Homo sapiens: one gene and its partners. The protein of the gene in region 6 purifies or fractionates together with the protein of the main gene of each other region. This does not show direct contact. Each region holds a gene or a part of one and is shown on either strand. Other genes may lie near its edges.

Region 1 (3,500 bases), on a different chromosome or scaffold from region 6:
TCTTAAGGTTACTTACTCATGTTTCTGTATTTTTCTGACTTTGTTGGGTCTTCTACAATCAGCAGCAGCCCATGAGGACTAGGAGGCTAGGCCACTTTGTTGGATCATATTGTCATATAAGTTGAGTATCCCTAATTCAGAAATCTGAAATGTTCCAAAATATGAAACTCTTTGAGCTCCATAAAATTCAAAGGAAATGCTCATTGGAGCATTTCAGATTTTGGATTTTCAGGTTAGGGATGCTGAATATAATACAGATATTCCAAAATCCAGGAAAAAACAAAAATGAAAATCCAAAACATTTTTGGTCCCAAGCATTTCAGATAAGGAATACTCAGCCTGTAGTGCATTCAAACCCAAATGAGAAATGGGTCCCAAAACTGTTTAACTTACGATTTTTTAATTGAAAATGTAAAAACAATAAATCTGTCTTTGAACATTCTAGTAAGGAAAATACTGGATTTTAAGTATAACTGTTAACGCTGTAATGTTTGGAATTCTTAATTTTTTTACTCTTGATTCTTTTTTTTTTTTTTCTCCTAGGTTTCTCAGTTTGGGTGCAGATCATTTGCTTTGCTTTTTGATGATATAGACCATAATATGTGTGCAGCAGACAAAGAGGTATTCAGTTCTTTTGCTCATGCCCAAGTCTCCATCACAAATGAAATCTATCAGTACCTAGGAGAGCCAGAAACTTTCCTCTTCTGTCCCACAGGTATTGTATATAATGGCTTTACATTTAACTAGTCTTCTTGGAATATATAACTTATAAAGGACCATGGGCCCCATTCTCTCTCCACTTCCCTCCTCCTTTGGTGTGTAAAAGTAGGAATCTTTTTTTAGAAGACATTTTTCAAGATCCTAAATTGGAGAAATTTTAGGAACTAATAAATGACAACTGACTAGGCAAAAGATTTTTATGTATTTTTAAGTACTGGAAGTATATGAACATTACATTGTCAATATTAAAAGAGGGATAGTATTGAAATGAAAACTGGAGAAAAACCAAATTACATTGCTTTTACCTTAGTCACTTCTCATTTCCTCCTACTTGTCCCCTTTTTCTGCCCATGCATATCTGTCCCTTTTTGCACTCCTCCCACTCCCATCTGGGCTCTTATTTCAAGTAGTCAGCATAGAAAGCTTAACAGTTTTTCCCGTTTTCCTTTCTTTTTGCCCCTCTGGTTTCTTTCATTGAAAATATTTTAGTCTCTTAGTTGCTTCTCAAAATTCAACTTACAGGAAGTTTTCCCCACACTTCCTTGTTCAGGAAGAATTTTAGATTAAATTATTTAACTTTCTTTGTGTGTATTGTGAGCCGAGAACCTTATTTTAGTTGAGTACTACATTAGTACCCAGAAGTTTTAAGATTATACTGGGAATTAATTAGCTGCAAGTTACAGTTTAAGTTGCAGTTGAGTACTAATAGCCATTGGTATATGCCTTTAAAAAAATTTTTTTTAAATTTTACTTTTAAGTTTGTATTATTTATTTAGAGACCGGGCTATAAAACTGGCTAATTTTTATATTTTTGGTAGAGACGGGGTTTCGCCATATTGCCCAGGCTAGTGTCGAACTCTTGGGCTCAAGTGATCCACCCGCTTCAGCCTCCCAAAATGCTGGGATTGCAGGTGTGAGCCACTGTGCCCAGCTGCCATTGGCATATTCTTGTATTAGTTCTATTATGATATTATCAATTCATTCTGTTTGGCGTTTAATTGTAACTGAGAAAAGTAGGCAATTCAGAATTCTGTAGAAAATGCTGCAGTTCTTGTTTTTTTAGTAAACTTGTATTTCTAGTAACTGTAGTATCGTAAGAATTGATCTGTACTACTGTTGGAGGAAAAATACCAGATTTTATGAATTTCTTAAATGAACTGCCCACTTTAGTTCCTTGTAGGAGGCCTTTTATCATTTAGATGAAAATAATTTAGAATTGGCAGACATTTTTTCCACATTCAAAAACCCATGGGCCTTTTGGGAGGCCAAGGCGGGCGGATTGCCTGAGCTCAGGAGTTTGCGACCAACCTGGGCAGCATGGTGAAACCCCATCTCTACTAAAATACAAAAAAAAATTAGCCGGGCGTGGCGGCGTGCGCCTGTAGTCCCAGCTGCTTGGGAGGCTGAGGCAGGAGAATTGCTTGAGCCCAGGAGGCAGAGGTTGCAGTGAGCCGAGATCGTGCCACTGCACTCTAGCCTGGGCATCAAGAGTGAGACTCCGTCTCAAAGAAAACAAACAAACAAAGAGAAAACCCATGAGCATTTTAATTCTGACTTTTTTACTTTTCTCCCTACATTTAGAATACTGTGGCACTTTCTGTTATCCAAATGTGTCTCAGTCTCCATATTTAAGGACTGTGGGTGAAAAGCTTCTACCTGGAATTGAAGTGCTTTGGACAGGTAAGTCTTTTAAGATTTATACAGTCAAAGTTGAATTAAGTAGGACTTGCAGAAATTGCTTGTTCTTGTTAATTGAATACTTTTTTTTTTGAGACGGAGTCTCACTCTGTCGCCCAGGATGGAGTCCAGTGGCATGATCTCGGCTCACTGCACGCTCCGCCTCCCAGGTTCACACCATTCTCCTGCCTCAGCCTCCCGAGTAGCTGGGACTACAGGCACCCGCCACCACGCCTGGCTAATTTTTTGTATTTTTAGTAGAGACAGGGTTTCACCATGTTAGCCAGGATGGTCTCGATCTCCTGACCTCGTGATCCACCCGCCTTGGCCTCCCAAAGTGCTGGGATTACAGGCGTGAGCCACCACGCCTGGCCTTTTTTTTTTTTTTTTTTGAGACAGAGCATTGCTCTTGTTGCCCAGGCTGGAGTGCAGTGGCACAATCTCAGCTCCCTGCAAACTCTGCCTCCCGGGTTCAAGCAATTCTCCTGACTCAGCCTCCCAAGTAGCTGGGATTACAGGCACACGCCACCACACCCAGCTAATTTTTGTATTTCTAGTAGAGACGGGGTTTCTCCATGTTAGCCAGGCTGGTCTCAAACTCCCGACCTCAGGTGATCTGCCCACTTCGGCCTCCCAAAGTGCTGGGATTACACATGTGACCCACTGCACCTGGCCCAGAGAACTTGTTAAAATACGCTTTCTTTTACAAAGTTTACATATTCTCTTAATATGAAAAAACATCTATCATGGTTGGGGAGCCTGAGTGGGGAGCCTGAGGTGGAAGCCCCCAGGAGTTCAAGACCAGCTTAGACAACATAGAGAGACTGTAGAAAAAATAAAAAACTTAGCCAGGTGGGCTGGTGCACACCTGTAGTCCCAGCTACTTAGGGGGCTGAGGTGGAAGGATCACTTGAGCCCGGGAGGTAGAGGCTGCAGTGAGCTGTGATCATGCCACTGCACTCCAGCCTGAGCAACAGAATGAGACCCTGTCTCAAAAAAAATTCAGTTAATAAATAATAAAGATTTATAGGGAATTGGGCTAAAAGGTATTGATCCCATCCTTAAGCAGCGTTAGGAAACTCTTCTATTTTATAAAACGAAAA
Region 2 (3,500 bases), on a different chromosome or scaffold from region 6:
AATTACAAGTGTGAGCCACCACACCCAGGTGGTTCCATAATATTTCATAATGTACTCAACCACTGAGATTGTTTGGAAAATTCTGGTAAGAAAATGGAAATCGAAATTCTTATGCAAACCTCACTGATCCTCTTTTTTGGAATGATTCCTCAAGGCACATTCTTAGGCTTTGGGTTTTCTTTGGCCAAGGGTTAGAAAAGTTTTATGTGTTGCTAAATTGCTTACAAAAAGGTCTGTATTAATCTACACTCTGAATCATTAAAATCGGATCTCTGACTTTAAATTATGCTTAAGTGTGCAATATACAAACAGTAGCCTCCACAAAGGATATTCTTCTCATATTACCTATTAGTGAAAACAGATGTCATGTACTTACTGTTCTGAATGCCATAAATTTCATCAATGAGTCCTTCATATGTCAGCTGAGTGGCAAGAGGTGTTAATAAATCCACATTCCGATCAAGCAACAAGAGATTATCAAAAACAGGAAATATTGAATTCTGGCTTCCTGTAAACTCTCTCTTCATCCTGATCATCATATTGGCCACTTGCTGGAAACAAAACATTGGATGAGGTGGGGCCCCCCTGGGAACAAGCAGATTTTAAAATTTGTCTAAAACCAGAAAGACAATCAAAAAAGTAAAAAAGGAGAAAAACTGGAAGAGTGCATTGCTTAGAAATAAGCAGCTCTAGAAAAGCACCTTGCTGTTGGCACCCATCCCGACACTTGCACCAAGGCAGCTGCCATTTGCCAATGAGGCATAAAATCAGGTCAGTCTATTCTTGTGATTCGCAGTAGTTATGTTCTATGAAGTCACTGCAAACACTAAATTAGCGAAGATGGAACCACTGTTCCTAGGAGAAACGCAGACTTAGGTTCCTGGGAGCCTCTGGTCTCAACGTTTCTGTCAATTGATCAATACGTAACCCAGTTTTATATGTGTTTCTGCTTAAAGATGCCTGACTTAACATAATTGTTGATCACTCACACTGAACTGACAGCCAGCAGCTCTGTGACTCGTGCCTGAACGAAGCGTCTCTGACACACGTAATGTCTCCGCCAGGCACACCACAGCCTTCTTGTGCACAAGACACCCGACTGCACCTCAGTCCTACATTTGCAGGCCATTTTAAACAGTGAAATCACCAAAAAAAGTACACACGTGTGGAAAATATGACAGTGAGACTGTGAAAAGTACACTTGTTTGCAGTCTGAGAGCTGAAATGGGAAGGTGGAGTGTCAGCTGCCTCAGTTGGGAACATGCGCAGTGGTTACTCAAACTGTCACCACTGTGCACGCCGACAAAAGCACCATGAGTACTGACTTGGAGGGTTATAAGTGCATTTTAATCAGTAGGCAAATTCATGAGTACAGTATTCATAAATAATTAAGATCAACTGAATTTGTTTGTAAGGAGCTTCCCGTTCCTCCTCCCTTTTGGGGTGTGAAGGGCCCTCCTTTACCACCACAAAGCAGCCGGTTCTCACCCGAGCGCATTCTCCTTTCCCAAAGATCTGGGGGATCGTTCCATACAGAGCTTGCAGGGTCATCAGCCCCTTGGCTGCGTGGTACAGGCTCGTCTGGTCACCCTCCAGGTAGCACTCCTGTGAGGGAAAAGGCCAATTATTGCCAGGCCATGGGGGCCTCCCAGGGGCCCATCTCTGTTCCTGGGGCTGGGGTGCAGCGACAGACAATAAAATCATTTCCAGTTATTTCACACTGTGCCAGGAAAATTGGGGACTCAAGTTCATTTTCCAAAACTGCTGCCTGTCAGACCAGGCGCTGAGGCTGGCAGCCCCAGGGTGGGTGCAGCCGTGGAAGCACCTCTCCTGGGCAGAGCCGGGGCTTCTGGGAGAAAACTGTTCACCCAGCATGCCAGCTCTTCTGAATCAGCTCTTAAATAAAAGACGGAAGAATACAGACTTACACTGAACGATGGGTTCCCATTCACTGGTGAGAGTAAACTCTGGTAGGACATGCTGGGAGAGCGACATGCTAATACCCAGAAATGCAAAAGACCACAGGACGAATACTTTATTGTTTTCAAAAAGGATGAGGCAGATTTTCATGACAACTGACAACTGAAGGCCACAATCTGTTGAGTATGATCTCATTTTATAAAAAATATATATTTTTGCATTGAAAAAAGGACCTCCAACTCAGCAAACTATCACAAGGACAAAAAAACAAACACCGCATGTTCTCACTCATAGGTGGGAATTGAACAATGAGAACACTTGGACACAGGAAGGGGAACATCACACACCAGGGCCTGTCGTGGGGTGGGGGAAGGGGGGAGGGATAGCATTAGGAGATATACCTAATGTAAATGATGAGTTAATGGGTGCAGCACACCAACATGGCACATGTATACATATGTAACAAACCTGCATGTTGTGCACATGTACCCTAGAACTTAAAGTATAAAAAAAAAAAAAAGAAAAAAGAATCTCCAAAATACACACAAAACCACCTGGGAAGGCTAGGTGCAGTGGCTCATGGCTGTAATCACAGCACTTTGGGAGGCTGAGATAGGAGGATTGCTTGAGCTCTTGAGTTTGAGACCAGACTGGGCAACATAGTGAGACCCTGTATCTATAAAAAATTAAATAATTAGCCAGGGATAGTAGCATGCATCTGTATCTGAGCTACTCAGGAGGGTAAGGCAGGAGGATCACCGGAGCCCAGGGATTTGAGGCTGCAATGAGCTATGTTCGCACCGCCACACTCCCCTCTGGGCAACAGAGCAAGACCCCATCTCTTTTTTTATTTTTATTTTTATTTTTTTTTTGAGATGGAGTCTCGCTCTGTCGCCCTGGCTGGAGTGCAGTGGCGCGATCTCGGCTCACTGCAAGCTCCACCTACTGGGTTCACACCATTCTCCTGCCTCAGCCTCCCAAGTAGCTGGGACTACAGGCGCCCGCCACCACGCCTGGCTAATTTTTTTGTATTTCTTAGTAGAGACGGGGTTTCACCATGTTAGCCCTGATGGTCTCGATCTCCTGACCTCGTGATCCGCCCACCTCGGCCTCCCAAAGTGCTGGGATTACAGGCGTGAGCCACCGCGCCCAGCCGACCCCATCTCTTTAAAAAAAAAAGAGAGAGAGAAAAAAACCACCTGTGAGGTGAGAGGAGGGAAGCAGTCACTTTTGATACAGGTGGATCAAAACACAGGTTCTAGACTCAGATTGCCTTGTTCTGAATCCAACTGTGTCACTTACTAGCTGTGCCCTGGGCCAGTTAGAGAATCTCTTTGTGCCTCAATTTATTCATATGTAGAAGGGAGTATAGTCCACATAGGGCAAGTATTAAATGAGAAAAATACATGTAAAGCATTTAATCCCAGTACCTGAAACATACAGCAAATGCTCAGTAACAGTTAGCTTTTATTTGGAATTATTTAGGTTTTTTTACAACCATTATCCACTCATAAGTCAATATGGTACATTTTATCAATTCCCTCCACCCCTACCAACCCAACATGTCCCTGCTGTCCACA
Region 3 (3,500 bases), on a different chromosome or scaffold from region 6:
CCACACACAGAATTTCTTTGCAAAGGCTGATGGAAAAGTTAAGAGTCAACAATAACAATAGTAATAATGAACTCCCACTTATGAGGACCTACGCTGGGCCATGACCTTATGTCACTTTCAGCCAGGAACTCTGCAAGGCTGGAATCAGCATCCCTTTCACAGATGAGGAAACAGCATTCCTTGCCCAAGGACTGAGCATGGAACTCAGAGGTCAGGGATCTATTCTGGGCCCTTCTAAATTCTAGCTGTAAAGACCTTGGGTATGTCCTTTCACCTGTGGGAGACTTAGTTTCCCTGTATTGCAAGGAGGGTCATGTCTCCTCTCCGATGCACACTTTTGCTGCAAAGGCTAAATGCAACGATGGCTTGGAAAAGAGTTTAGGGGCCAGGCGCAGTGGCTCACACCTGTAATCCCAGCACTTTGGGAGGCAGAGGCGGGCAGATCACTTGAAGTCAGGAGATCAAGACCAGGCTGGCCAAACATGGTGAAACCCCGTCTCTACTAAAAATACAAAAATTAGCCAGGCATGGTGGCATGCACCTGTAATCCCAGCTACTTGGGAGATTGAGGCCGGAGAATTGCTTGAACCCAGGAGGCAGAGGTTGCAGTGAGCTGACATCGTGCCACTGCACTCCAGCCTGGGCAACAGAGTGAGACTCCATCTCAAAAAAAAAAAAAAAAAGAGAGAGAGAGAGAGAGAGAGTTTAGGGGCCAGAAACGCACATAGTGGAGTGACGCTGATTGCTGATTAGGGAGAAGGTATGTATGAAGCACCTGGCAGTTGTTTAAGTGCAGCCATCGTGACCACACTGTGCAACTCTGCTCCCTATAGGTACTGCCAGCTAGGGGCTCGTGGTGGCTTTGGTTCATGGCCTCAGCCTGATTGTCCTTGGCTGCTCTCACGGTTCCCCCAGGCTCCCTTTCCCTGTTAAACATGAATCCCTTCTACTCCCCTCAGCAAAATAGCTCTTCCTGTGTCCCAGTGTCTCAGCCTCCAAACCTCTCTGGGTAGTATGCAGTGTTCTCAGGACACTTTCCAACTTCATTTTTGTGGATGCCCTAGAGAAGGTGCTCATTTTCCTGGCAGGGCAGAGGCTGAGCAAGCAGCCTGGAAGATATTCTGCTGGGGCATTTGGGGAATCAGGGGATGGTCTTTCTGGATGGTGACAGGGGTCCTCCCTCAGCTATGCCCCATGGGTAGGGGCTGTGTGATTGTGGACAAGTCATTGTCTTGCTTACCCTCAGATGCTTAGTCTATAAAAGGGAGTTGTTCCCCGGGTGCAGTGGCTCAAGCCTCTAATCCCAGCACTTTGAGAGGCTGAGGTGGGTGGATCGCTTGAGCCCAGGAGTTCAAGACCAGTGTGGGCAACATGGCGAAACCCCATCTCTACTAAACAAATACAAAAAATTAGCCGGACATGGTGGCACATGCCTGTAATCCCAACTACTCAGGAGGCTGAGGCACACGGACCGCTTGAACCCAGGAGGTGGAGGTTGCAGTGAGCTGGGATCACACCGCTGCACTCCAGACTGGGTGACAGAGTGAGACTCGGTCTCAAGATAAATAAATAAATAATAAATAAATAAAATGGGGTTTTTAATACCCACCTCACAGGGCACCGAGCAGATGAGATGATGCAATCTATGTGCTCCCCCTTCTGGGACCCTATTACAGGTCTGCTGGGATATTTTCTCCTCGTTAGGTGTGAGGGTTCAATTCCCTGCCCCAAGGAGGTGTCTTAAAAGAGAGATGCCCAAGAGGGAGAGACCCCAGATCATGGGTCCCAGGTGTGCCCCCTCCTCCACTCCCACCCTGAGCTCCATGACTCCAGGTTACTTACTGGATTTTCTTTGTGAAGTTCTTAGAAACAATGCCACCTTCTTGCTGTTTCTCTTCATGTTTGCCTGGAAGGAAGAAAAGTGTGGCGTGTCAGCATCTATGTTCCTTGGGCATCCTTCAGGACTGAGGCTTGGGTTCAAATCCTGGCCCTGGACCTGCCTTGCTGTGTGACTTAGGCCTACCCTAGAGACTCTAGTTATCTAAGCCTCAAGGACCTTGTCTGCCATACAGACCCACCTAAGTCCACTTCCAAGGCTGGCTATGAAGGTGAAATAAGATAATTGATGGAAAGGAGGCGTAGACCGTGGTTTGTAGTTAATTAAGGGTTAGTCTGAGGAAATCGCAGAAACTTCTGTGTTGTACCAAATCTTCCATGTGTTGTACCAAATCTTCCAAGTCTCCCACCTGACTCCTCTTCTCTAACCTGCCAGTAGAACCCTGGGTCTGACATCCCAGACTGGATGGCAGGCTTGAAGCGGGGTCACATGCTGAGGGCGACTCTGCCATGTAGCTTGCTTTATAGCTAACAGAGTGCTTTCCTAACTCTGAGCCCAGACGTCGTTCTCCCTTTGTTTCCAACATGGAAACTGAGGCTTGGTGATGGATCCAGGGTCGCCCAGCAGGTCCCTGGTGGCTCTGAGCTTTGAATCAGCTCTCTCTGAGTCTAGGCCAAGTTCTAGGTCCTGATGCCTCTCTGCTCTTGAATTTCTGTCTGTTCCAGCTCCCGATTAGCTCTTTAAGCCACATTATCTGTACCCAGTAGTGAAAGCACAGCCTGGAAAAAGAATGCTTCAATCTGCCAAAAACACCCAGCTTTTCCTAAGGGCACTGTGGATGTGAAATTCCACCAGACCTCTCGCCTCTTAACCTGTGGTAAGAGAGGGCTTCCCAACCCCCTCAGGGAGGAAAAAGATGAAATTACAAGAAGACTTGGGCCTAAACTGGTTTTGATCTTGTAATGTATATAGCACATTCTAATTCTCTCGGTCTCTCCTCATTCTTTTTTTCTTTAATAGAGAGAGTGTCTGTAGTTTCTCTTTAAACAAACAAGATTAGTACAACAGTGGGGCCATTCGGCTGTTACTTTTCACTCCTCATTTGTGGGGCCACCTTCTGGAGGCAAGAACCCTCATTTACACAGGGAGGTGCTTCTGAGGGGCCTTGAAATCTAGAATGTAAACAACTTTGTTGAATATAGCAGTCCAGATTTTTTTAAACTGACAACTTATAGCTAATTACTTTTAATTATTTCTTTGTTAATAGCTTTTTTTGTGCTTTAAGATAGTGCATGTGTATGTTAGAAAATGCAGAAAATAGGCCGGGCATAGTGGCTCACTCTTATAATGTCTGCACTTTGGGAGACTGAGACAGGAGGATGACTCGAGGCCAGGAGTTTGAGACCAGCCTGGACAACATAGAGAGGCACTGTTTCTAAAAATAATAATAATAATAATAATAGGCAGGGCGTGGTGACTTATGCCTGTAATCCCAGCACTTTGGGAGGCCGAGGCAGGTGGATCACGAGGTCAAGAGATCGAGACCTTCCTGGCCAACACGGTGAAACTCCGTCTCTACTAAAAATACAAAAATTAGCTGGACATGGTGGCACGTGCCTATAGTCCCAGCTACTTGGGAGGCTGAGGCAGGAGAATTGCTTGA
Region 4 (3,500 bases), on a different chromosome or scaffold from region 6:
ATTTATTTGTCAGAACCTGGGAGATATTTGTCAGGACCTGGGAAATATTTGTCAGAACCTGGGAGATATTTGTCAGAACCTGGGAGATATTTATTTGTCTCTTGAACTTTGCATAACACTAAGGTTTCGGTATGATTTGATTCAGATTATAATTGACCTTTTGGCCAATATCACACCAGTAATATGTCCTTCTCTGTGCATTGGCACGTGATAAAAATCTGTCCTATTACAGTTGATATTAGTTTTATTCAGTTGTTTAAAGAGCTCCCTGACAGATTTTCCATTGTGGAGTTTATTTTTTTCTCTTTTAAGTACCTTGAGGAGATTTACTAATTAATGTGCATAAATAATCACATTTAATCTGAAAGGTTTTGCTTCTTAGATTCTTTTTGCATATGCCTTGCTTTAGAAGATGAAGAATCTCATCTCTCTTTATGGTTTAGAAAAACTGGGATAAACCCAAGCTTGCCACTTACAGGATTTTTGACAAAATATTGTCCTTGGGCCCAAAGGACTGGCATCACTGGTGAGCGCGTTAGAAATTCGGAAACTCAGCCTTGACCTCCGATTTCCTGAAGCAAAATCTGCACACTAGTTTATTGGACACATGAAAATTGGAGAGGCAGCTTCTAACTCACCATGACTTTTCTGCCTGCGAAATATACACAGCTTATTCATGTGACGTAAATGTAGCACTCAAAAATGGACATGCCTTTGTTGATGCCCTTAATGTTATACTTGTTATCAACCAGAAAAGTATTGTATATACACTGCTTATGTGGCTCTCAGGCAATTCTCTTTCCTCAGAGTTAGAGAGTATTCTTCTGCTAAGAATTACCTTATTGTATAATTTCAGTCACTTGTGTAAGTCAGAACCAGTTCTCTTCACTCGCTCATTTCACCTCGAATCAAGTATTTGTTATTGTTGTTGTTTCTTCTTCAGACTCTGTTGACGTTCAGGGATGTGGCCATAGAATTCTCCCTGGAGGAGTGGAAATGCCTGGACCTCGCTCAGCAGAATTTGTACAGGGATGTGATGTTGGAGAACTACAGAAACTTGTTCTCCGTTGGTGAGGATAACTTCAATACGTAGTTCCTCCTATGCCCTAAAGAGTTCCTTTCGTTCCTCTGCGGAATGTTTTTTGGGAGTTTCTGCGTTGCATGAATGAGTTTCAGATCCCTGCTTTTAAGAAAAACATGGGGAATAGTTGATGTAAAAAAAAAAAAAATCTTCAAAATGTGGTTCATCTTGACATAAACCTTCCTTTTTTTTCAGCTGATCTGTATCTTTCACTCTAGTGACAATTCCAGAAATTCAGTGGCATGAAATATTGTTGCCCACAACTTAAAGTCAAATTTCCACCACCAATTTTTTATGTCAGCAGTACTGAGTGGTGAAACTAAGAACCCACAGATTTAAAATACTTACTGAATATTCTAAAGGTGATGTCAGGAAGCATAATTTTGGGATTAATTTTCTAGAATCTTATATAATGTTCACTCTACTAAGCACAGTACAAGGTTGATAATTGGAGAATTTCAGCAAGAGTAATGTCACTTTTTTCTAATAAAACAGGTCTCACTGTCTGTAAGCCAGGCCTGATCACCTGCCTGGAGCAACGAAAAGAGCCCTGGAATGTGAAGAGACAGGAGGCAGCAGACGGACATCCAGGTGGGTGGGAATGAACGAAGCAGGTAACCCAGGTGAGAGGTCCAGAGGTCGAGGAGGAAGCCAGACCTTAAAATGTGGTTTGAGAAGCTCTGCCCTAGTGGAGATGGTTTCTGAGAGCCTGGGTGTCTTTCTCTTGCTGTACCCTAGGAGCGTCTTCTGTCTCATTCTCTCAAATTTTGTATAGACTCTGCTTCCTGTTTAGTGATCTTCCTTTATAAAGGTTACAGTAAAAATCAGAGTCCTCCTCCTGACGAGTAAGGGCCTGTGTGGTCTCATGGCGTGCTCCGCCACTGCTTTTGGGAACATGCCTGTACCTGCCTGTTTTTGAGGAACTCTGTTAAATGTTTTTTGATTTCCTTTGCATCATGTCTGAAGTGTGCGAGAGGCGTGGTGATGGTGATTGGTTCAGAAATCCCAGAAGTCCCGTAAACAGATGTTGTATGCTTTCTGCTTTATGATTTCGTATCCTACAGAGGTTTCAAATGGGAGTCTACAGAAATGTATACTCAGCAGTTTTCTCCGAACACTAGGCATCTGCCCAAATATGAGATAATCTAATGTTATTTTACTTCAACATTTTATTTTATTTTTTTTAGTATGAGCTGAGGTTGGTCATTTAAACTTTATATTCCCTAACTCCCAACTGTAATAGTTATAATATTATCATTTTATAATTTCTTCTTTTTTAGTATGAGGCTTATCAGGACTCTGTCATTCATATGTATGTATGTGTGCATATGTATATATGTGTGTATATATGTGTGTATATATGTGTGTGTATATATCATATATGTGTGTATATATAATATATCAACATATCCTTTTGAAATGATAGGATTTCATTCTTTTTTATGCTGGAGTAATATTCTGTTGTCTATTTAAATCATATTTTCTTTATCCATTCATGTATATATACACACACATATATACAGTGTGTCTATGTGGGCATATGTGTAACAGATTATTTTAGAAATAAAAATTGTGTATATATTGTGTACAATGTAATAATTTGATATGTGTATACGTTGTGAAATAATTAGTGCAATCACTTCAAGGAACAAATCTATCACTTCACGTAATTACCTTTTCTTGTAGTGAGAACAGTTAATGTCTACCGTTGGCAAACTTTAAGCATACAAAAGATTATTAATAGTATTCGTGAAGCTACTCATTAGATTCCCCAAACTTACTCATCTTACAACTGAAAGTTTGTACCTTTTGAACAACAGCTCATTTTCCCCAACTCCAGGCCCTGGCAACTGCCATTGTCCTCTGCTCCTGTGAGTTCAGCCACGACAGATTCCACGTCTGAGGGGGAACGTGCAGTCTCTGTCTTTGGGGCCTGGCTGAGTTTATTTAGCAGGATGTCCTTCAGGGTCATCCACGTGGTTGAATGACAGGATTTCATTCCTTTTTTATGGCTGAGTAATATTCTATTGTCTATTTATATCACATTTTCTTTATCCATTCAGCATCCGCAAACGTTTAGCTTGTCTTTATATCTTGACAATTGTGAATAATGCTGCAGTGAACATGAGGGAGCAGATAATTCTTCAAGATGCTGCTTTTATTCCCTTCAGTTATTATATACACAGAAGTGTGATTGCTGCGTTGCAGGGTAGGTTTATCTTTTTCTAACTTTTAAATAACGCCCCCCCACCCTGGTTTTCATAATGACTCTACCAGTTGAGAACTCTGAGCGTTCAGAATTGTTTTTTCTTTACATCCTTATCAACATTGTTAGTAGATTGGCGCAAAAGTAAGAGTATTTCTTACTATTTAGAAGGCAAAAACCACAATTACTTTTGCACAGCCCTAATATGTTACT
Region 5 (3,500 bases), on a different chromosome or scaffold from region 6:
ATTTAATAAATATTAGATTTCCATCTAGTCTTTCACTATACAGCACAGCAAAAGGCAATCTTTTATTTACTCCAAAAACTCAATAGTCTAAATCCTCTAATATATACCAAGTATGGATATTTTTGACTGTTTTCTTACGTGTAGAAAGATTGGACCAAATCAGCTCTGATCCTAATATTCAAATCAATAAAAGATTACTAAAAATGTCTTTTTATCTTCACCATTATAATCCAAAATATTGCCTTGCCATCTTCAAAAGAGGACTGCCTTAAATGTTTATGTTTTGAGACAACATTAAAAGTTTAAGTGCTTTCTAAAACTTCCCTGCCTCTAGTATCCCTGTCCTAAATTTGGGGGTGGAGGAAGTAAAGGAGGAGGAAACACACATACCCTTCAAACGAATAACAAAACCTGGAGTTTCCGCAACAAGGAATTCTTTAAACTATATATGCCATGCTTACACAATGCTTTGCACAAATCTATTTGTGAAGTCTGAAGATCATGGCACCAGAATTGAGCAACTAACCACAAATGAAGTGGTTATGTAATGAAGCTAAGTCATTACTGTATGGCTTAACCATAAAATTTCCAAAGAGCTTTAACTCTTGTGACCCACACAAACTACAATTTAAAGCTGAAAAATAGCTCCTCACAAGCCTCTTTAAAAAAATAAAAAATAAAGCTGGAAAAAATCTTGGTCATCTCTTTAATATAACACTCTCATTCTACATATGAAGCCACAAAAGCCCAGATAGTTTAAGTGACCCATCTGAAGGGCCACAGCCAGAAGGGGTAAGATTTGGGTTTAGAACTACAGTTTCCAAGGTCTAGTCCTGGGTTCTCTCTCCCAGATGAGCTTGTTCTTCCTTTAGTGTATTATCACCTGTAAAGTATTTTTACTTGCCAACACTAGTGATTAAAATTAACATTCCAATGGATTACTATTGAAATAACTTCCGTTAAGATTTTCAGTCAATTTTCATAGTCCTCAGTAAATTATAACCACAATTGTTCAGAATCTTCTGCCTTGGATAACACTAACAAAAATAGTACTGGCCGGGCGCGGTGACTCACGCCTGTAATCCCAGCACTTTGGGAGGCCAAGGTGGGCGGATCACCTGAGGTCAGGAGTTCGAGACCAGCCTGACCAACATGGAGAAACCCTGTCTCTAATAAAAATACAAAATTAGCCGGGCGTGGTGGCGCATGCCTGTAATTCCAGCTAATCGGGAGGCTGAGGCAGGAGAATCGCTTGAACCTGGGAGGCGGAGGTTGCAGTGGGCCAAGGTCGCAGCCATTGCACTCCAGCCTGGGCAACAGGAGCGAAATTCCATCTCAAAATAAATAAATAAATAAATAAACAGTACCCTTGTATGTCATGATAGGCTCAGAAAAACCAAAACACTGCCAAATACCAATGCAAATAGTTTTGATTCAACGTCTGTATCACAGCCACTCCAGGCTTCATTCGTCTGTAAGAATGAAAGCTCAGACTAGATCATCTGTAACCTCACCTTCCAACTCTCACATTCTCTGCCCCCCTTGCCACCTGCCCCTGCCCCTCCAAAGACCTCTACTTTTTACTTATTTGCCTGGCATCCTAGTCATTGCTAAAAGGCCAAGCGCAGCATCTATCCACAGGATACCTATGTGTTCTATGAGTACTACACTCGAAATACTAACTGAACAATTTGGTTATCTTTGATGAGACAACCTGCATTAGACCGTCTGTAAAGCTTTTAGTTTAAAAAAATTATGTTAAAAAATATTTTGCAATTTTACCTTGAGACTTTTTTCACTTCACACGTTCTTTCTTCCGTCTTTTTTTTAAAGGTTGGTTTTGGGTTTTTTTTTTGTTTTGAGACGGAGTCTAGCTCTGCCGCCCAGGCTGGAGTGCAGTGGCGCGATCTCACTGCAAGCTCCACCTCCCGGCTTCATACCATTCTCCTGTCTCAGCCTCCCAGGTAGCTGGGACTGACTACAGGCGCCCGCCGCCACGCCCGGCTAATTTTTTTGTATTTTTAGTAGAGACGGGGTTTCACCGTGTTAGCCAGGATGGTCTCGATCTCCTGACCTCGTGATCCGCCCGCCTCGGCCTCCCAAAGTGCTGGGATTACAAGCGTGAGCCACCGCGCCCGGCCTAAAGGTTGTTTTTTATACAACTCATTAACTCAAGGATTATATACATCTTACCTTAGCCCCAGCCCATTTTAAATTCCTTATCAAGACAAGCAGTTTCTGAAATCCAGAATCTGGTTCTCTGTAATCTTTTTAAAACCACACAAACAAACGTTAATATCGCAACAGATTTAAAATAAGATAATAATAAATTCACTATTGAACATTTTAAGATTTAACACTTCAGAGTTTACTAGGCTCAGATTTGTCCACCTTTATACAAGCAACTGAGGGCAATAAATCCCAGCACATCAATTTTCTAAAGTAGTAACTGAAAACCGACCGCAAGGCATTTCTAATTCGAAAACAAGGCATTTCTAATACGAAAGCAACAGTGACTCATGCGGCTTTCTAGACTTCCCAAAAGCCCTTTCCAAGCGGCCTCAGGAGCCCTTGCCCTCGCCCCGGTCGCCGATTCGCACGCAGTTGTGCAGTCAGCCGCTGCGACCCGGCTCCTGCCCGGCGCCAGCCCTGCAAGGCTACCGGCCTCAAGGGCTCCCGCTACGGCCCCTGGGCTGCCAGACGTACCTCACAGGCCAGGTCACCGACTCACCAGCTGCCCGGCAAGCGACAGGCTGCTTTACCCCTGACCCGAGTGCGAAAGGTCCCCGAGCCCGGGCCTCGTCCCGCCCACGCGTCACACGGCAACTCCAGTTCGCCCGGGCCACTAGCGAGCTGGAGCGCTCAAGCCAAGGGCGGGGAGGAGCGGAAAACTCCGCCCATTGTTGCCCTGCTCCCAGCCAGTCCCCGCTGGCGCTCGCGGCCCCCCTGCAGCTCCCTCCCCGCTGGGCCTCCCTGCTAGACGCCTGCTGCCCCCGCCCGGCCCCCAGGGTAAGGCCAGCTAGAAGGACCTCGGATGGCACCTGGGGCTCCTCTCCAGCCTCTCCTCTCCCCACTTGCTCCACCCGATAATGGGCCCAACTCAATGAGAATTATATATGAACTATAATGAATTACATGAATTAAAATGTTTAGGACAGTGCCTGGCAATATAGCCCTACCTACCTGTGACTATCATGCTTATGGTACTTCTAGCTTTCCCTTTTCTCCAAGATAATCCTCATAGCCTGCATATGCAATCAGGCCAAAAGATGAAATCTAGACAATGTTGTAATTCTATTACCTTTCAGTCGATTTTTTGAATGTAAAATACTTGCTGTTGTCTATGCATATAAAGCTGTTTTTGTTAATATTAAGAGTAAAGCAAAATCACATGAGAAACACCAAAGGGGAACACTAAGGAGCCATTACCCTAAATTAAGTATCCCTTAGATTTCAGATGAACAGAGTGGAAGTGCCTGCTTTGTCTGTGATGCATACAA
Region 6 (3,500 bases):
TCAATACTAAAATTCTATATTCAACATTTGATAGTCCTATAGAAAGTGAAAAGTAGTACAATCAATTCTAAACCATTCTTATTTATTTAGAACATACAGCATTTTTATAGGATTTAAGAAGTAACTAAATTTTATCCCTAAATATAGTCCATCTAAGCCTATATGAAAGTCAGTGTATAATTTTTGAAAAGGGAACTCAGAACTCTGCTGGCAAATAAATCACCTAAAATCTAAATAGTGCTTCCCAAATTTACAATCTACTGGGCACACCAGTAATCAAAAGTTTAGCTCATAAGCAAATATGAAATGTGTATTTTGTGAGGAAGACAGAATAAAGCTATTGGATTACAAATAAGTCTGGAAGCTCATTTCTGCTTTCCTCTGTAGCACTGGGCCCATCTCATTGAATAGCTTCTCTTACCAATTTGGCAGAGAACAGATTTAGAAGCCAGCCTCCAGAGTTCATGTTCAAACTGTGGATCCTGTCTTTCTCCAGCACCTAATCATGATTCTTAAAGTTAGAGAGCTCTCACTTTACTTTTCTAAGTTATTTTAAGCTTCATAATAAAATCTGCAGATGAAATCATGTTTTATTAATTTAAAGAAACTTTTCTCACATTTTGTAAAGCAAACATTTAAAATGTGCTGGTTGGCATTTGAGAGACCTCCCTGGGAATGGCGGAGATAATGGGTCTTAAAAGCAAAAACAAGTAAGCCAAAATTGCGTTTACCAGATGATCACTTTAAAATAAAAACGATATAAAGAAAACATAAAGAATGACTTTCTAACTGCCAAATGCAATAAGTCATTGAAAGTCAAGGGATGTCAGTGATATAACATTAATTATGAGCCAACCACTGAGTATTTAGAGTGAAGTCAAGCACAGAAGAAATCTTTAAAGAAAACACAAATGTCCCTTCTATTGGTTTTCACTGGTTACTTCCATACTGGAAAGACGAAGGACTGTCCATAAAACTGTTTCCAAAGGCTTTACCAACTTGATCTTCCTTCAGATGTATGAGCTTTTGCTCATAAATGATACAGGCAGAATTTCATACTTATCTCTTTGGTATGAAATTCCCTAGTCAGCAAGGTTAATCAGAGTCCTTTTATTAATCAGGGTAATGCACTTTAAGTACTTCGTTTATGGCCCATAGCCACTGATTCCTTGGTTGGTAGTCATATTTTTAATTAAAATAACCAATGAATGATTTCACTTAAAAAACTTTCTGGCAGGTACTCTGTTTCCTTTACTAAGTAGCAACTTATATCCCAATATTGTGAAAGCTCTTATTTCCACTCTCTGAATGAATAATTTCTTTATCACCTAATTTTCCTCTTTGCCAGAAATTCACTCTCCTGCTTTCCCATTTCCATCCTAGGGTTCTTTTCCTTTCTTCGATGTTCAAACTTTTTTCTTTTACATTTTACACTTCAAACTTGCTTTTATCCCCCCTTCCCAGGGGAACTTTGAGTTATCTGGAAAATATTAGCTATTAAAAAATAGCCAAGAATTGTGCTTCAGTCTGTAATCCTTCAGGACTGTGTAAATACATGGACACAGGCAGAGCAAATGTCTGCTAATCCAGCCACGAGCAGTGTGTGTAACCTTTGGCTGTAATAACAGAGGCTTCTCATGTGTGGGGTTCTTTTGACTCAGATAACATTATAGTTGATAACTGTTGCAGAGCCCAGGCTTAGCTGAAGGTTTACCAGAAATGTGTACATCCTCTCCAAACGCTGGAGCAGAACCAATCCCCTCTTCCAAAAGAAGGCCCAAACACTTTGCTCCTTGCTATATTTCTAGGCAGCTTTCTACCCAGCTATTGGGGCATATCTCTTTGGTTTCAGATTTAAATTAAACACACACGCGCACGCGTGCACACACACACGATTAGTCTGCATATTTTCTTTTCAGGGATAAAACTTCTCAAATTCCTTTAGAACTTTTAGCTACAAGTGATATCAGTTTGGAGGTAAACTGCATGTAGCCTTCGGATCATAGACGGCTATTTAAAGATTTGGGGGCAATGGAGTTTGAGAGTTAGAGTTGATTCTGTGGGTACTTGTTATATGAACATGGACACTTTATACTACTTAACCTCTTCCAGACTAATTATCTTCATTTGTAAAATGGAAGCTTTGACAAGACCCTCTCTAAGTTCAGATTCTGGCATGCAGATAATTAATCACATTATGAAGGTGAAACTATGTAAACAGATTATGTATCATGGTCAAAGCCACATGGGCATGGCCTGTATTTGGGAGTTCCTGTGGGTTTTGTACACAGGGGAAATAATCTCTATTTTTCTTTTCTTCTTAGTGGAGCTTCTTATTCAAACAGAACTCTTCTGCAAGGAGCTGTCACTGCACACAGACTCTAGACATGGGGTAGCGTGTGAGTGGTTTACATTAGAGGGAGGCAGCCGCTGCTTCACCTCCCACCCCTAGCTCCCATGGGCTTGGTTCCCCGGTTCTCCCTCACCTCTGTCCTTTGTGAAGTCTAAACACATAGTAAAAGGGCAGCCTGAAGTCTGCAGAGGTGAGCAGAGGGGGGCTTTTGAAAGACAAATACTAGGAATAAATCACATTCTAGGTTTCGAAGCCCTGGAAAAATTTTGCTGTGGGAAGAAGGGAGTGTGTAAAAAATGAATCTGCCTCATCAGTTAATTGTGTTTCTAGCATGCTGTGGTCATTGGTGGTTATATTTTGGGGGACAAATTCTGATCTCTTGACATATCAGCATCAGCAGAAGATTGTGAATAGGCACAGCCTCATCTGTAGTTTTTGAAGATAGCTTTACCTGGGGTTTGGTCCTCCATGACAGTAAGTGTATTTACTTCCACACTTGCTACACAGTGACCTGTAGGCCCAGCCTCATTTTAAAGTGATGATTGTACGCTGATGGCCCTTTTGCCAGGGGCTGCTCTTTTCTCTGCTCAAAGCAGCAGACTTTCCTGATATGCTCAGGGCTGAATTATTCAAAAATCCCTAGCCCCACATTACCACCAAAGTTTTGCAACACAGCTTCCAGATACACTTCAGTATACCCTAAGCTATAGCCTGCAAACTGTCCTCTTGCCATTTCTCCACTTCAGCTCCCCAGAGGCAGCAGCTAAGGTGTCTTGTTACCACCTACCTACACACATTCCTATCTTAGGAGAGGTGAGTTGTAACCACAACTCCATTCTGGGAGTTGGCTGAATTCCAGGACCTTGTAGTCTGTGAGCCTGATTGACCAGATAATGTTTATGATTACAGGAGATGCAGAAGAAACTGACTGAGAGGCCAAGGATGACTGACTCACATAATACACGAACAGGATAGAGTCTTTAGGTGCTACCTGGAAGTTAGGAGGAGGAAAAAAATTCAACTAGCAAATGCATTTCCATATCAGAGATGTGAAATATTACAGATGAATTGAGGATCTTCTTCCTTTCCTTGTGATTTGTGAAGCAGGCTTGGAGGTAATTCTATTCTGCTTCCACAAAGACAAAGA
Region 7 (3,500 bases), on a different chromosome or scaffold from region 6:
GTGAATATCTTACAATTCTGGTTGGCAGCAGATAACTTCCAGTCTCAGCTTGCTGCCAAAAAGGGCCAATATGATGGACAGGAGGCACAGAATGATGCCATGATTTTATATGACAAGTGAGTTATATTGATAGATGGATTCAGCAGATACTTATTGAACATTTGATATGTTTTGTGGAAATAAAGATGAATAAACTCAGTCTCTGTTGTCAAGGAGCTCACAGGAGGCAGCATAAAAGCTGCTTTTATATGGTGTTTGTAAAGCTTTGGGGGTTCTTAGAACAAAAGTTTCTGCTGGGAAAGGGGAGGTGTATGTGGGGTAAACAGGATGGCAATGGTGGTGTTCAAGGAGTGTTTCCCAGAAGAGAGATTTTGTTTGGATCCCAAAGAAAGAAGGGAATTTTGCTACCCAGAGAAGGCAGAAAACAACATTCTAGGCAAAGGCATTGGCCCAGAAGCCATGGAAACGTAGGGGAAAGTGGCACTTTCAAGAAACTTGAGTTTAGATAATCAAAGGAGTGGGGAATAAATATGAGGATGCTGGTACTAATTGGAATAGATTGTAAGGGACCTTGAATGCCTATTTATGGGTATATTATACTTTCTGTATAAATCTGCTCAGGCACGTTGTTAATTAGTTTTTTATTAGTTTTCACTGAAAATGAGAGGATGGAAACATCATACAGTAAACAAAATTGAAAATATCTGGTCAGGCAGATGATGAGCTTGTGGCCAGCTCTGTAACGTATGGTATTCTTTTCATTTAACTTTTCTTACTCTGTAAAAAAAGTAATTCGTGGTCGGGCACGGTGGCTCACTCCTGTAATCACAACACTTTGAGAGGCAGAGGCAGGTGAATCGCTTGAGCCCAGGAATTTGAGACCAGCCTGGGCAACATGGCAAAACCCGCCTTTACTAAAAATACAAAAATTAGCTGAGCGTGATGGCGTGCGCCTGTTGTCCTAGCTACTTAGGGGCCTGAGGCAGAAGGATCACCTGAGCCTTGGGAGGTCGAGGCTGCAGTGAGCTGTGATCCACTGTACTCCACCCTGGGCAGGGCAGTAGAGTGAGACCCTGTCTCCAAAAAAAAAAAAAACAACAAAGGTAATTTGTTATTTGTATCCTTAAGCAAATGCTAAAGGGGTAACTTGGGGATAGAGAAAAGTCCACAGATGTTAGGGTTTGAAGACACTAATAGTATCTAGGCCAGTGGTTCCTGAACATTAGTCTGTGGGCTCTTGCTGGGCTGTCTGCATAGGAATCACCTGAGAGCTTATTAAAAATAGGTTTTCAGGCTGGTTGCGGTGGCTCACGCCTATAATCCCAGCACTTTGGGAGGCTGAGGCAGGCGGATTACTTGAGGTCAGGCGTTCAAGACCAGCCTGGCCAACATGGTAAAACCCCGTCTCTACTAAAAATACAAGAATTAGCCAGGCATGATGGCACACACCTGTAATCCCAGCTACTCAGGAGGCTGAGGAAGGAGAATTGCTCGAGCCCGGGAGGTGGAGGTTGCAGTGAGCGGAGATCATGCCACTGCACTCCAGGCTGGCTGACAGAGGGAGACTCTGTCTCAGAAAAAAAAAAAAAAATAGGTTTTCAGTCTGGGTACCGGTGGCTCACACCTGTAATCCCAGCACTTTGGGAGGCCAAGGCAGGCAGATCACTTGAGGTCAGGAGTTTGAGAACTGCCTGGCCAACATAGTGAAACCTTGTCTCTACTAGAAACTACAAAAAATTAACTGGGCATTTTGACGGGTGCCTATAATCCCAGCTACTAGGGAGGCTGAGGCAGGAGAATTGCTTGAACCCGGGAGGCAGAGGACTGCATCTCAAAAAAAAAAAAAAAAAAAAGGTTTCCAGTCCCCCTGTCTCAGAAATTCTGATTCTGCAGGTTTGAGGTGTGACCAGGAATCTTTATTTTTAGAAGACATACCAGATAATTCTGATAAATAGCCAGTTTAGGGATGTAGTCTAATTTTCCTATTTTGCAAGTAAGGAAAATAAGGCCCAGAGAGGTAATGATTTTCTCAAAGTCACAGAACAAGTTAGTGGCAGAATTTGGACTGGAATGCAGTTCTTAATGTTCTGTCCAGTGTTTATTCTGGTACAGTATGTTTGTAGAAGGTATTACGTAAGAAACATTGTTATATAGATGTTGAGATAGGAAGAGTTTACATTTAGAAATTTGGTCTAAAATGCCTGAACATTCAAGTCGTGGAGGAGTATTGACCAACTTACTCAATACAACATAGGAGATTCACATTTTGTTACAAAAATGCTGATTTAAAAGGAGAGTTTTCTTTTTTTTCTTCTTTTTTATTTTTTGAGATGGAGTCTTGCTCTGTCACCCAGGCTAGAGTGCAGTGACACGATCTCAGCTCACTGCAACCTCCACCTCCTGGGTTCAAGCGGTTCTCCTGCCTCAGCCTCCTGAGTAGCTGGGATTACAGGTGGGGGCCACCACGCCCAGCTAATTTTTGTATTTTTAGTAGAGACAGGGTTTCACCATGTTGGCCAGGCCGGTCTTGAACTCCTGACCTCAAGTGATCCACCCACCACTGCCTCCCAAAGTGCTGGGATTATAGGCGTGAGCCACTGTGCCCAGCCTGCTTGTTTTTGTATCATATATATGCATCATCATAATCATGCATTATCAACCTTTGTATTTCTGTCAGGACATAGAAACCATTAGAGTGCTTGGAAGAGAGCCTTTTTTTTTTTCTCGCATTTAATGCTTTTTTTGGTATTCATTTCATAATCAGCTTACCAAAACATTACCTGCATTATACCCCATCAAGGTAGAAATCTTTGTGTTATCAATATTGGTTACTCCCTTTCCACACCGAGTCATCAGTAAGTCCTGTTCTATCCAAATAGGTCATATGCATCTAGCTCACCCCTCAGTGCTGTTTTGTTTTGAATTTGTACATGTTTACTCCTGATGCCTTGTAGTTATGATGATGTGTTCTTATTTTATTCTGTGCATACAAGTTCTCAGCTCGCTTTTTAGGGAAAATGACCATGTCTTCCTTTCCTATAAATTCCTTTCTATCTATCAAGTCCTCAACAGAGAATAGGTACCCATAAATATGTGATTGTTAGTTTCTTTGCCTCAGTTGTAGTCTGATCCTTACAGCTTTTAAACAACAGTAGAGTTCACCGTCAAGAACTAAGGATGGTTGGCAGGCAGATAGAAAGGTAGCAAGTTGACCCAACTATCTCTGGGGAAGTGGGAACAAAGAAAGGTTACATCAGCACTGTCATCACATAGCTCTATAGTTCTAGGCCTGCAGGCTCAATCAAGTAGCCTTGTATAAGATTCTCTGGAGGAGGTGCTGAAAGTTGCTTATACTTGCTATGGAATTTGATTTTACTTCGGATATCTTTTTACCATAGGTACTTCTCCCTCCAAGCCACACATCCTCTTGGATTTGATGATGTTGTACGATTAGAAATTGAATCCAATATCTGCAGGGAAGGTGGGCCACTCCCCAACTG

What was found.
Region 1: the proteins of ASB4 (region 6) and OGA purify together in Homo sapiens (co-immunoprecipitation; one large-scale study listed by IntAct). This does not show direct contact.
Region 2: the proteins of ASB4 (region 6) and VPS33A purify together in Homo sapiens (co-immunoprecipitation; one large-scale study listed by IntAct). This does not show direct contact.
Region 3: the proteins of ASB4 (region 6) and HSPB8 purify together in Homo sapiens (affinity purification with mass spectrometry, with the first as the bait; one large-scale study listed by BioGRID). This does not show direct contact.
Region 4: the proteins of ASB4 (region 6) and ZNF195 purify together in Homo sapiens (affinity purification with mass spectrometry; one large-scale study listed by BioGRID and IntAct). This does not show direct contact.
Region 5: the proteins of ASB4 (region 6) and NCOA4 purify together in Homo sapiens (co-immunoprecipitation; one large-scale study listed by IntAct). This does not show direct contact.
Region 7: the proteins of ASB4 (region 6) and AKAP10 purify together in Homo sapiens (co-immunoprecipitation; one large-scale study listed by IntAct). This does not show direct contact.

Annotation. Positions count from the first base shown.
Region 1 is NC_000010.11:101,804,945-101,808,444, reverse strand, and holds part of OGA (protein O-GlcNAcase), read left to right. Parts: intron 1-543; coding exon 544-715; intron 716-2,301; coding exon 2,302-2,400; intron 2,401-3,500.
Region 2 is NC_000012.12:122,249,495-122,252,994, forward strand, and holds part of VPS33A (vacuolar protein sorting-associated protein 33A), read right to left. Parts: exon of another isoform or gene 3,368-3,500; intron 1,606-3,367; coding exon 1,489-1,605; intron 552-1,488; coding exon 377-551; intron 1-376.
Region 3 is NC_000012.12:119,185,431-119,188,930, reverse strand, and holds part of HSPB8 (heat shock protein beta-8), read right to left. Parts: intron 1,907-3,500; coding exon 1,843-1,906; intron 1-1,842. UniProt on the Homo sapiens protein: Involved in the chaperone-assisted selective autophagy (CASA), a crucial process for protein quality control, particularly in mechanical strained cells and tissues such as muscle. Displays temperature-dependent chaperone activity.
Region 4 is NC_000011.10:3,369,147-3,372,646, reverse strand, and holds part of ZNF195 (zinc finger protein 195), read left to right. Parts: intron 1-943; coding exon 944-1,070; intron 1,071-1,576; coding exon 1,577-1,672; intron 1,673-3,500. UniProt on the Homo sapiens protein: May be involved in transcriptional regulation.
Region 5 is NC_000010.11:46,020,624-46,024,123, forward strand, and holds part of NCOA4 (nuclear receptor coactivator 4), read right to left. Parts: intron 2,756-3,500; exon of another isoform or gene 2,707-2,755; intron 1-2,706. UniProt on the Homo sapiens protein: Cargo receptor for the autophagic turnover of the iron-binding ferritin complex, playing a central role in iron homeostasis. Acts as an adapter for delivery of ferritin to lysosomes and autophagic degradation of ferritin, a process named ferritinophagy.
Region 6 is NC_000007.14:95,488,943-95,492,442, forward strand, and holds part of ASB4 (ankyrin repeat and SOCS box protein 4), read left to right. Parts: intron 1-3,500.
Region 7 is NC_000017.11:19,936,329-19,939,828, reverse strand, and holds part of AKAP10 (A-kinase anchor protein 10, mitochondrial isoform 1 precursor), read left to right. Parts: coding exon 1-116; exon of another isoform or gene 117-199; intron 200-3,398; coding exon 3,399-3,500. UniProt on the Homo sapiens protein: Differentially targeted protein that binds to type I and II regulatory subunits of protein kinase A and anchors them to the mitochondria or the plasma membrane.